Regions from separate parts of the Homo sapiens genome. Here region 2 is linked to region 1. Evidence: fine-mapped expression QTL. A gene starts in region 1. The other region holds a variant in brackets. All regions are shown on one strand. Distances are between the middles of the regions. Region 1 holds the start of PRDM1 (PR/SET domain 1). Region 2 has its middle 92 kb from the start of PREP.

Region 1 (5,380 bases):
TGAGGATAGTTTTAGAAACCCAGCTAATAAAGCTGGCTTGTTAAAAAGAGTAAAGCCAACTAATTACCAAAGACAGACAAAAGAAATATTAAAACTTTTTTTTCCAAGAAAAAGTTTTCTCCCTTAAGAGATATTGTACAACAGGGACACTAGGGCCAGTGGGCCCAGAGCTTTCTTGAAGTTCACTGACAATTTCACCCACCCTATGCTGCAAGTTGCTTTTCTAAGACATGCCAATTTGCCAAAATATTTAACTGTTTACTAATTAGTGAGGAACAGTTGAAGGCTGGAAGAAATGAGAAGGAAATGGTTTAGGGAAAGAGAAAGCAATGCAAGAATTGAATAGAGCAATCAATTATTTACTGATACTTACAGATTCTCAGAGGTTTTCAGAGATATACAAGGCCTCAAGGGCAAGTAGGGAGATTTGGCACCAGGTCCCCAATCTTCTTGTCAATAAACCAGAGGCTTACCTCTTCACTGTTGGTGGCATACTTGAAAAGCAGATTCCTTGGTAAGGATGCCTCCGCCTGAACCGAAGTACCGCCATCAGCACCAGAATCCCAGGGGTGGTCGTTCACAATGTATGTACACTTCTCTTCAAACTCAGCCTCTGTCCACAGAGTCATATCCGCATCCTCCATGTCCATTTTCATGGTCCCCTTGGTCCCCTCTGCCAATCCCTGAAACCTCACAGTGCTGGAGTTACACTTGGGGGCAGCCTGGAAGAGAAAGGAAAGGCCTTTAATCCCCATTGTCCCGCCGTTCCTGTGGCTCCTTCTGAGAGGCTATGACTAATACAGTAGTCTGAAGACTTTAAAAGCAGATGCAGAGTGCTTGGTACAGTTGAGAAAGAGCCAAGAAGCCGTATAAAGTAAACTGCCTTGAAAAGAAGCAAGGTTTTTAAATGCTACTCTTAGTTAAAAAAAAAAAAAAAAAAAAGAATGTGGCAACCTCACTGTGGGGAAAAGGAAAAAAAAAAAAAGAATCACCTCTGAACAATCCCTGGCTTTACCTCTCATGGCAGAAAAATGTTCTGGGCACACAGTCCAGTGTCCCAGAATGCCTGGGGTCATGGCCGCCAGACCCTCGGCACTGTGGAAAAGCTGCCTCAGAAAAGTGTCACAAACAAGGAGAGGAAGAGGAAGGAGCTCTGTCTGCCTCTGAATGAAGCTAAAAATGGAAAGCGCGTGTGGTGCAGGAGCGGAACCCAGCCTGCCTTTTCCAAATGGGGAAGACCGAACTTTCCCACCAGCTCCCAACGCAAAACAACTTTCAAAACAACTGCCTCCTCCCTCTGCTGCGAGCTCTCTTTCATCCTCTCACATGGAAGACTGAAAAGGGTTGCATCCTGCCAGCATCACTGAGCTACGGCCTCTTAGAAATCACTTGGACCACAGGAAAAGAGGAGGAAAAATGGGTGAAGGGGAAAACAGCCTGCAGTGTCTTCTGACTTGCAAGCATCTCATACCAAATTGAAAAGGCAAAAACAAAACATAAAACCGTTTAATAAAATTCCCTGGAGAGAATTCCTTTAGGAGTCCTCAGCTACAAATAGCACTTTCCATTTAAATCTGAAAGTGTATGAATTCCCAGAAGTCACTGATGTACTACAGTTTACTGTAACTAAAGTTATAACAAATTTAGAAGACTTGGAGGACAAGCTCTGCTTCCACTTGTACATTGATGAGGATATTCCCCCAAAATCCTCCCTCACACTCAGAAAAAAACTGTTTTCCAAAGGCAAAAAAAGGTAAACAACTTCTGTAAGGGTTTTCTCATATAGACATGTTTGATAAAAATGAGGAATATGGGTATCATTTCCATGTAAGAATGTGTGTTTGTTCAAATGTAAACATAACATTCTGTGGAAGTCCTTCAAGGAGGTTTTTACATTCTTCCACTTCTCTAAATAGGATGCTCTTAAAAAAAAAAAAGTTGGATGCAAAGTTGTTTTTCCCTCAGTTATGATTTAAGCAAACCTGCTTATTTTTATTTAGTTCCAACATGTAGAGTCATGACGCCAAACACATGTTAAAAATAAAATAAAATAGAAAACTTCAGCCAACCCGGAATAGTTTGACGAGTGTGAGCTGGAACCACTACTGAAATTTCAATGAATTGGCAATTATGTCTAGAACTGAAAGGGTTAATGATTCATAAGGAAAGTCTCACAAATGTTTGACAGCACTAAGTGCACTAAAGCAGAAGCATGTTTCTACTGCGACATTAGCCAAAAAAAATTAATAATAATAACAATAAAGGAAAAGAAAATAAAGTTTTCAGATCAATTTCAGAATTAAAAAAAAAAAATTCAAGTTCCTTACCAAGGTCGTACCCACACGTTTTTCCAAGCAAATATCCAACATCTGAGAAAAGTCTCGTTCATCTCTACCCAGTCCACATTCTCCCCGCGTCCCCCGCCAGGCTGAGCCGCACAGACGCGCACCTCGGCGGTCCCTCCTCGCTTCGTCCGGCCGCCCGGGCGCCCGCGTCCCAGCTCCGGGCGGACAGGTGCCGCGGTCGCTGCTCTTGCCTCTCCGCAACACTGGAGGGCCGAGTGTCACGGCAGCACTTTGTCTGTGTTAACCGTCTGGCTTCCCCTCCCTGCTTAAGATTTCCTTAGCCACTCGGCTGCGCGAAGTGGGGGCGTGGCCAACGTGGCCAACACCACCTGGCCGAGCCCAGGGCTTTCCCCCAGATTGCTAGCACAGCCGCCGAGAGCTTCCTCTCTTCGCATGTGTATTTCAACATTGACTTGGAATCTTCTTACTTCCCTTTGAAGGCACTTAACCTCAACGCTTACTTGGGCTCTATTGTATTCTAAACACTCCAGATCGCCCTCCTTCCTGGCGCGGCAGAATTAGGGGGCGCACGTTCCTTAAATTAAGGAAACTTAAAATTTACCTACACAGTTTCTGATTTCTCAGCTCAAATCCCCAGGTACAAAAGACACAAATCTTACTTCAAAAGAGCAAGTTAAATTGTTTTTGCAGCTAGTGTAATACAGTGGAGCTGTCTGGTCCTCAAGCTGTTGTGTATGTAACGCACGTTTCCCCGCCCCCCGCCCCAAAAGTTGTAACATTCCGTTTCTCCTGCTAACGTTCAAACTTGGCAGAACTAACTTTCCTCTTTTAACTATTTAGTAAATAGGGAAATAGGCAAAAGTTATAATTCTACAGATTGTTTGTTTTCCTTTCCTCTCCTCCCAGAACCCACAGGCTGACTTCCCAGGAGTGTAAGTAAAATGTAGAGCATTAGTCGTTTCACAGTTCAGAGGAATATTGAACTGATCACTGCAAGTGGAAAGCGGTCGGAGGCAGTAATTAGTGGGGCTTATTCTGAGCCCCGGCCAGCTTTTCCTCCAGCCCAGTCAGTCCTCTGTTGAAGGAAGGACATCCTGTGATGATGGCATACAATGTCCTGTTTGTTTATTATTAAGAGCGTGGACCTTGCATTCCTGCTTCTCATTACAAAACAAACCAGATGCTTTACTTCCTTCAATGGTCTTGTGCCTTCAGCAAGGAATCCTTTAATTCAGAGAAACAATGTTTATAGCAAACACCCCATTTCAATTATTATTTAGATCATTGAAATCCAGGTCTTCCATTTTTCCTGCTTGCCTTACCATAGGTAGGTTTTTTTAAAATCATTTCTCCTTCGACCTGCAATGTCTTTTCTAACATTTTAAATACACGTGTGCACACACATCCACCCACACACACACCCACATACACACACCCAGTTCCAACCTAATGATACCAACTTAGTCATACAATGAAATGGACATCTGAGTATTTGTTTACAGGAAGAAATGAAACAAAGCAAAACAAAAGCCCAACTCAATCCTAAAAAATATGTCTGTTTATCTTTAAAATTTCTTTTCTCACTTTTAGAAAACTTTTCTAGAATTTTTTTTAGGGGAGAGGGGGAGAGGCAAAAGATTATTTGCCAGGAAATGGTGTCTAAAGTCTTGCTGCAATCTCTCTCTCAGTACAGAACAATTAAATTCCCACTAGGGGACATGATTAGCACACACTCGCTGCTTGCTGCGTGGCCCACCTGTGATTGCATGTTATGCCAGAGGGGACGCTAGCACCAAGAGGAAGCAGGACTTTTAGAAGGCAGATCTGCTGGGGGTGGAAAACTGAATGAACAATTCCTAAGAGTCCTCAGAAAGCTCCAAGCTGATAATTAAACAAGAGAAATCCAGCCTGCTCAAGAGGGTTTATTAACTGATGCTGAGTCAGCACCACAATGGACAGAAAAACAATGTAGTCATACTGAAGGCTGGCCTGCTGTTCAAACAGTCTCACTTGCAGATGTTAAAGAGTATTTCACTTCCCTTTTAGAATCAAACTCTGTTCTTAGGCCACATACACCATCATGCAACTGCTGGTGAGTCAACCATGATAGAGTAAGGGAATAGGCAAAAAGTTTGATATTTGAGGTGGGAAGAAGGCTATTTTAAGCCAAATATTTGCTTTAATGACTGGAAGATGCCAGTGAATCAACTCACTGTTAATTAATATCAGCCTGCACTCACCTTCAGAGGTGGTGAAATGGGCTTGAGTCTAGGGAGGACGCAAACTTCAAATACCAGTGTGGGGCTTAGCCAGGCAACCCTAAAATTAGTTCCAGGTGTCCCAGCTGAGCTGGACAAGGCCACGGGTAGAACTTTAAGGAAAGTAAATTTTCAGACACAGAGTGTTGGAATGTAAAGTCCTTCACATGTTTGCTTCTTGTCTCAAAGTGATTGGGAAAAAAAAAACCTCCAAACCAACTTTTGACTATGATTATAGTAGTCAATGATGGATATCATCATTTAAAATGAAAGCTACCAAAAAGGAAGAAGAAATAAAAGAAAGGAAGCTTGCTCCATAATAGGAAAAAACATGTCCATATTGTAATATTTAGGTATTGTCCAGCACAAAACCATTAAGGGGGAATAAAAGGGACTGACCTCTGAACTTCACTCGGTCCTCCCAGAGGGCCTGAGCAGTGCACCTTTTTACTGCTGACTAAAGCTGGGAGACCCTGGCAGCAGTACAGCTGTGCAGAGAGAGCTATCAGAGGCTGCCACTGTCTGGAATCTTATGTCTCAAAGGGTTTGTTTCTAAGTAATAACTTGGTGCATTTTTAGTCACTATATTATTTCCCCCCAAGTTAGAACACCGAAAAGAACCTCAGTTATCTTTATTAATCAGCATTTCTCAGGCAGAGCTCTCACATTAAAAGTGTTCACAATGGCAGCAAATCATGAATGAGCCAAATAGTTCTGTTCTCAGAAATTCTCATCTATTCCCGTGGATGGCATCATCACAACAGTTCCATCAGCCAATTTTAATTCGGTTTCAGCTACTGGGCCAGTTTTTTTCCT
Region 2 (5,380 bases), 590 kb after region 1:
TACTATATTATGATTATGCAATTTGCTTTTTCCCTAAACATTATGCTTTTGAGACTTATCCATATGAAGCTTTGTAGATGTAGCTCATTTATTTTCATGTTTGTATTTGAATACACAATCTATCCTTTCTCCTGCTCAGAGACACTTGGGTTGCTTCAGATTTTTTACCACAAAGCTTCCATGAATATTCTTGAAAAAGCCTCTGTGCATATGTGCTACAGTTTCTCTAGGGGTAGAATTGCAGGATCATACAATATGTGCATCTTTTCCTTTTCTCACTATCGTTGAATTGCACTTCCAAGAGGCTGTACTGATGTATATACCCGTAAGAAGTATATGAGAATTTCTGTTTCTCCACACCTTTGACAACACTTGCTATTGCAGGTGCACATTTGAAAAAAGTATTATCACTGTCTCTACTCTCAAAATGCCTGAAATACTACTAAATATATACTACTCAATAAATTAAAAATGTATAATTGCTTCCTTATTGAAAATATTGTACATTATCACTGATGCCATAAAAGAATCTCAAATGCCTACAAGCCTTCTCACTAGGGAAAAGTTACCCAACAGGCAAAGACTCTTTCTCTTCCTGAGAGCTTTCAAGGTGTTCATCCAAGCCATGATCAAGTTTTAGAGCTAGAAAACATTTTAGAAATCATTCTATCCAGCAGTATCATTTAAACTAAAAAATCGGAAGAGTTACGCCCAAAGTCACTCAACTATGACAATGATCATAATATTATCATTAATTTAGAACCTATTATGTGCCAAGTACCTTTCTAGATGCTTCATAATTTTTTTTTTACAGATTGGCCTCAAACTCCTGGGCTCATGAGATCCTCCTGCTTCGGCCTCTGGAGTAGCTCAGACTAGAGGAGCATGTCATCATGGCCAACTGCTTCACATATATTTTTAATCCTCATGACAATAGCCAAGTAGCTCCACAAATAGTTTATTCTCCAAAACACATTTCCATGGCTACTGAGAACGAGCCACCATGCTATTAATCTGGTGGAACAAAATTGTACCAGAGACAGCTCCTATTTTCAGAGGCATAAAATCTGGAAAGGAAAGTGACACCAAAGCATAAATGAGCATGTGAGGAAAGCTGGGTGATGGCTCAGACCAAGCCAGGCTACTGCCTTAGATCTTTCTCCAGCTATGATCATTTGGGAAAATGTCCTAAAGAAACTTATATGGGAATTAGGCTTTAGAGACCAGGGAGAACTTGGATGGGCACCATCTTACCTTGGACGTGTTATCTGGGCAATGCCCACTTAATGACCATGAGAAAGACAGTGATGGGAATCCAAGACCCTGCCATCAAAATGGGGCACGTCCAGGGGGAACGAGGAAGGACAAATCAAGCCAAAAGGAACTAGGAGCACGTAAGCCAGACAAACAGTGCAGAAGATCTGCAGAGCCAGGCAGCTGGCAACTGGGGAAAATCCAACAAAACTACTTCTCAGGAACACAGCAACAAGGTCTCCCCTGCTCTGGCCCCTGCTGCCCTACTTTCTTTACTACTCTCCCCTCCTTTGCCCTGATCTGCTGGCCTCTCCTTGGTCTCTGGTGATTACAGTAGGATCTTTCACCTGCAGTTTCCTCTGCTTGGGACACTACTCAGCTTTACACATGGCTGGCTGGCTCCTTCTCGTCGTTCCAATCTCAGTTGAGATGTTATTCCTAAGCGCCCCATCTAAACCAGCTTCTGCCAGTCCCTGCCTCCATCTCAGTAGCCCGTTTGACTCTCCTCATAGTCTTTCTCACTCCCCAAAATTACTTTGCTTCTTTATTTAACCACTTACCCCAATGAGAGAGTGAGCATCATGAGAATGGGGAATAGTTCTTGCCATGTGTTATGTGGTCAGGCCCTGGCATACAGGAAGGCTCCAGTAAACATTTATTGTTGGTGAATGAATGAACCATAATATTCCAGTTTTCAATGAGGCAGGTAGGCTGTTAGAATCTGCAAAAGTGTTTTGGGACCTTGGGGTCTCAGTCATAGGGGTGGAGTTTAAGGGAAGGATTATATGAAGGGGATGCTGAGTTCAACGTGTGAGGTAAGGGGTCCCTAAGAGGGACGCAGAAAACAGAAATGAGGCACAGGCTCAGGTACCAGAACTGAGGGTGAAGATGGGCCTCAGAACCAAAGCAAGAGCTGAGGGGGGTGAACAGGCTAAATTGTCACAAAGGGACTTTCTCTACCACAAAGTGTCAGGCTATATACTATTTAAATCCCTCCTGCCCCAGATCCGGGCAAGACCTGACCACAGCAGTGAAGTGAGTAAGGGACATGCGTATCTCCTGATCTGGCCCCGTGGTGGAGGCAAACAACTCCACGGTGGTGGAAAGCAGAAATATTTGTGTAGAGAAGTGTGAAGATGAGCTATTCCCAGCAGAAAGGACAGCAAGGGCAAGGCAGGGAGGTGAGAGAATCACTGTGTTGGGAAACAGAATAAACAGAATGTATTGGGTGCAAGGCTGAGCACCTGCTGATGAAGAGCAAGGGAAAAGGGAAAGTGAGGCCAAATGGTGGAGGAACTTGATTTCCAAACCAAGATTTTGCCATTAAATTGAGGAAATAGAGAATCTTTGAATATTACTTTACTGCTTTGGTTGGCTTTAACCAGGGAAGTTATGTAGTCATTTTGGACACTTTAGCAAGCTTCCTTAAGGCA[G/A]GAGTCTTGTCTGTTTATTCAGTGATGTGTCTCCAACTTAGTGCCTGGCACACAAAAGAGCACAGGAAAAAAAACAAAAACAAAACAAAACAAAAACACTGTCAAAGGCATTGAATTTCAACTTTAATCTGGTGGCTATATTCAGGACAGCAAGCCTAAAGGTGGGCCAACTCATGGGAAATTTATTCCAAAATATGGTTTTAGAAATTTGATTTGTTGCAGCAGGAATCGGAAAGAACAGATTTGGCAAAGGGAATCAGCAGGACTTAATGACTAACTGCATGTTTGCTTGGGGCAGGGGTTGAGGCAGGAAACAGTGCGGGAAAGAGGGGAGTAAAAACTGATCCTGAGCTAGTTTAGAGTGTGGGTGACTGAATGACACCACTATGGAGACAGAGAAGTTGGAATGCAGAGCTGTTGAAGTGGGACTGGGAAGCTCAGTGTAGGTATTTGAGATGCGTGAAGGCTTAAGCAAGTAGGGATATTTAGAAGGCAGTCGAAATGAGACTGGAGTTCTGTAGAGGCCTAAAGGAAGGATGTATATTTGCATGTAAGTACTTCGATCATTTTCAGAGACAGATTGGGAATAAAACTAAATAGAATTGAGAATATCAACCGCATAGCTAGGATGCAGTGAAACCTAACTTACCTGGCCTGCCTCGTATTCAACAGTAGAATACTAGGTTCCATTTCTAAAATCGAACATGCTGAGTGGCTTCGCACCAAAACTCAATTCCTACTAGGCCTTCAGGACCTAATGTCCTTGAAGCTAGGCCACTCACTTTTTTTAGGAGGTGGTATTGCCAAGTAGTTAAGAGTATGGCAATAGAGTTAGAATACCGGGGTTCAAATCCTGACTCTGTCACTCACTAGCCAGATGACTTTAAACCAGTTACTTAACCTCCCTCTTTCTGTCTCTGTAAAATAGAAGTAATAGTCGTACCTACCCCTAGCAGACTGTTGTGAAGACCAAATGAATCAATGTATATAAAGCATGTAGCATAGTACTTGGTAATAGCCAATGCTCAACAATGGTCCTTGAAGCTTTGTACTGAGGACTGGAATATGTGCTCTTATTTTCATTTATGAATAGAGCGTGCTTTCCCTGAAAATCCCTGGGATATTGTAGAATATTTTCAGCAAAATAGAAAAAAAAAAACCATCAATGTTCATTCTACCAAAAGAGGTCACCTCCTTAGATTTAGATTAAAAAATATACCACTTAGGCATGCTGCCACTATAGTGAGTCTAGCAACTCAGGTGCACTAAATTCTCACAATTGAAAAAGCTCTGGGATAATTTCAGTGCTATTGTTTTGGAGACTTCCTTTTACCCTGCTTTGAATTTGTCACCGTTCCAATTTTAGACAGTAAATTATAAGTCTTTAAAAAGAGAGTTCCATTCAATCTTGAGAAAAGGGAAAATGAACCCCTGAACTGGATGTCAATTACCAGTCCCTGACTTGGGCAACGTCTGAACTCTTCAGGTTGGTAAATTCAACCATGGGGTGTTGTGTTTTTTTGTTTTGCTTTGTTTTGTTTTGTTGGCTTCTTTGTTTCATTTGCAAATTTTTTTTTTTTTAACAAGAAAGTTTGTTTCAAAAGAGCCTTTCTGTTGTATTCATAGTTGTCAGACCATGGCAAGCAGTGAGGCAGTGGAATTTATTTGAATTGCCACTCTTCCTTACTTTTTAAAAAATGCTCCCTTACAATAGTAACTCTTACAAGGATAATCTACCAGCAAACATCAGTAGGCCAGACATACTGGCAGTCCCCAGTCAATCTGTAACTGAAAACTAAAAGTATAGCAGGAAATCCTAATAATGAAACTTGCAGGATTAGAGAGCTGATGAAGCAGAAAACAAAAAGTAGGTGATAACTGCTTAGTACAGCCTTGCTGGGTGTCAGGACTTTAAGGATTTTCTTAACATGTGGGTGGATCTTCATCTATTTTTGACTTCACTTTAGCCATCCAAAACAAGTCTTGGCTCTGGGTTATTTTCCATCCTCTTCCAAGATAACCCCACACAGCTATAATCAACAGAGCTATTCCAACAAGCTTTTTTTTTTTTTTTCTCAGTAGTCTTTCCCAAAGTAATAGAGAGTTCAGGTTATCATATCTTAATGTCATGTGGTACTAAATCACACACTCCAAGGAGAGATAACAAGACTGCCCAAGGAGGGTGGGTGTGGTGGGTAGGGACTTTGTCCCAGCCAATGTTCCTTTCTCTCTAGGGGGCTAAATATGTCCAGCTTATGTATGGCAAGAGGTATCAGAGCTGGATGGGGTCAGGCAAAGAAAATAAAGAAGACAGCTCTGCCAATGGCTTAAAAATGCCTAGGCTCATCTTGGTTCCATAGTTGGAAATGGGATGATTTCATCTTGTTTTCCCAGTGAATCACAAAGTGGCCTTGAGGGATCACATGCTCCTAGCTTGCTTTCCTTGGAAATAGAGACCTTTGCATTCATCTGTCAAGTGCAGAATGTGGGGATTTGTCAGGAAAGCCAAATCTTCATGTTGGTCATACCAACTGTTTTCCAGTATTCTACAAGGGGTCTTAGGACCTCACTGTCCCCCACCCGGACAGGGTCATGTATCCTAGACCTTGCATTCAGCCACACACAGGTTCTGGTTGCAGAATAAACTAAAATGTAGACTGGATCAAGACCTATAGGACATACTTCCTGGCTTT

The links. PIP is the estimated chance that this variant, and not a neighbour inherited with it, causes the effect.
Region 2: its variant is the best candidate, but not a certain one, in a credible set for the expression of PRDM1 in cerebellum (GTEx, PIP 0.58).

Annotation. Positions count from the first base shown.
Region 1 is chr6:106,083,543-106,088,922 of GRCh38, reverse strand. PRDM1 (PR/SET domain 1) reads right to left here and starts at 2,587. Exons shown (of 7, transcript NM_001198.4): 1 at 2,328-2,587; 2 at 474-722. The coding sequence starts at 2,369. RefSeq lists enhancers at 2,240-2,959, 4,137-4,206.
Region 2 is chr6:105,492,594-105,497,973 of GRCh38, reverse strand. No RefSeq gene overlaps it. Among named protein-coding and RNA genes, the nearest start is that of PREP, 92 kb to the right of the region's middle. RefSeq lists an enhancer at 2,329-2,398. The variant G/A (reference allele first, on the strand shown) is at 2,688.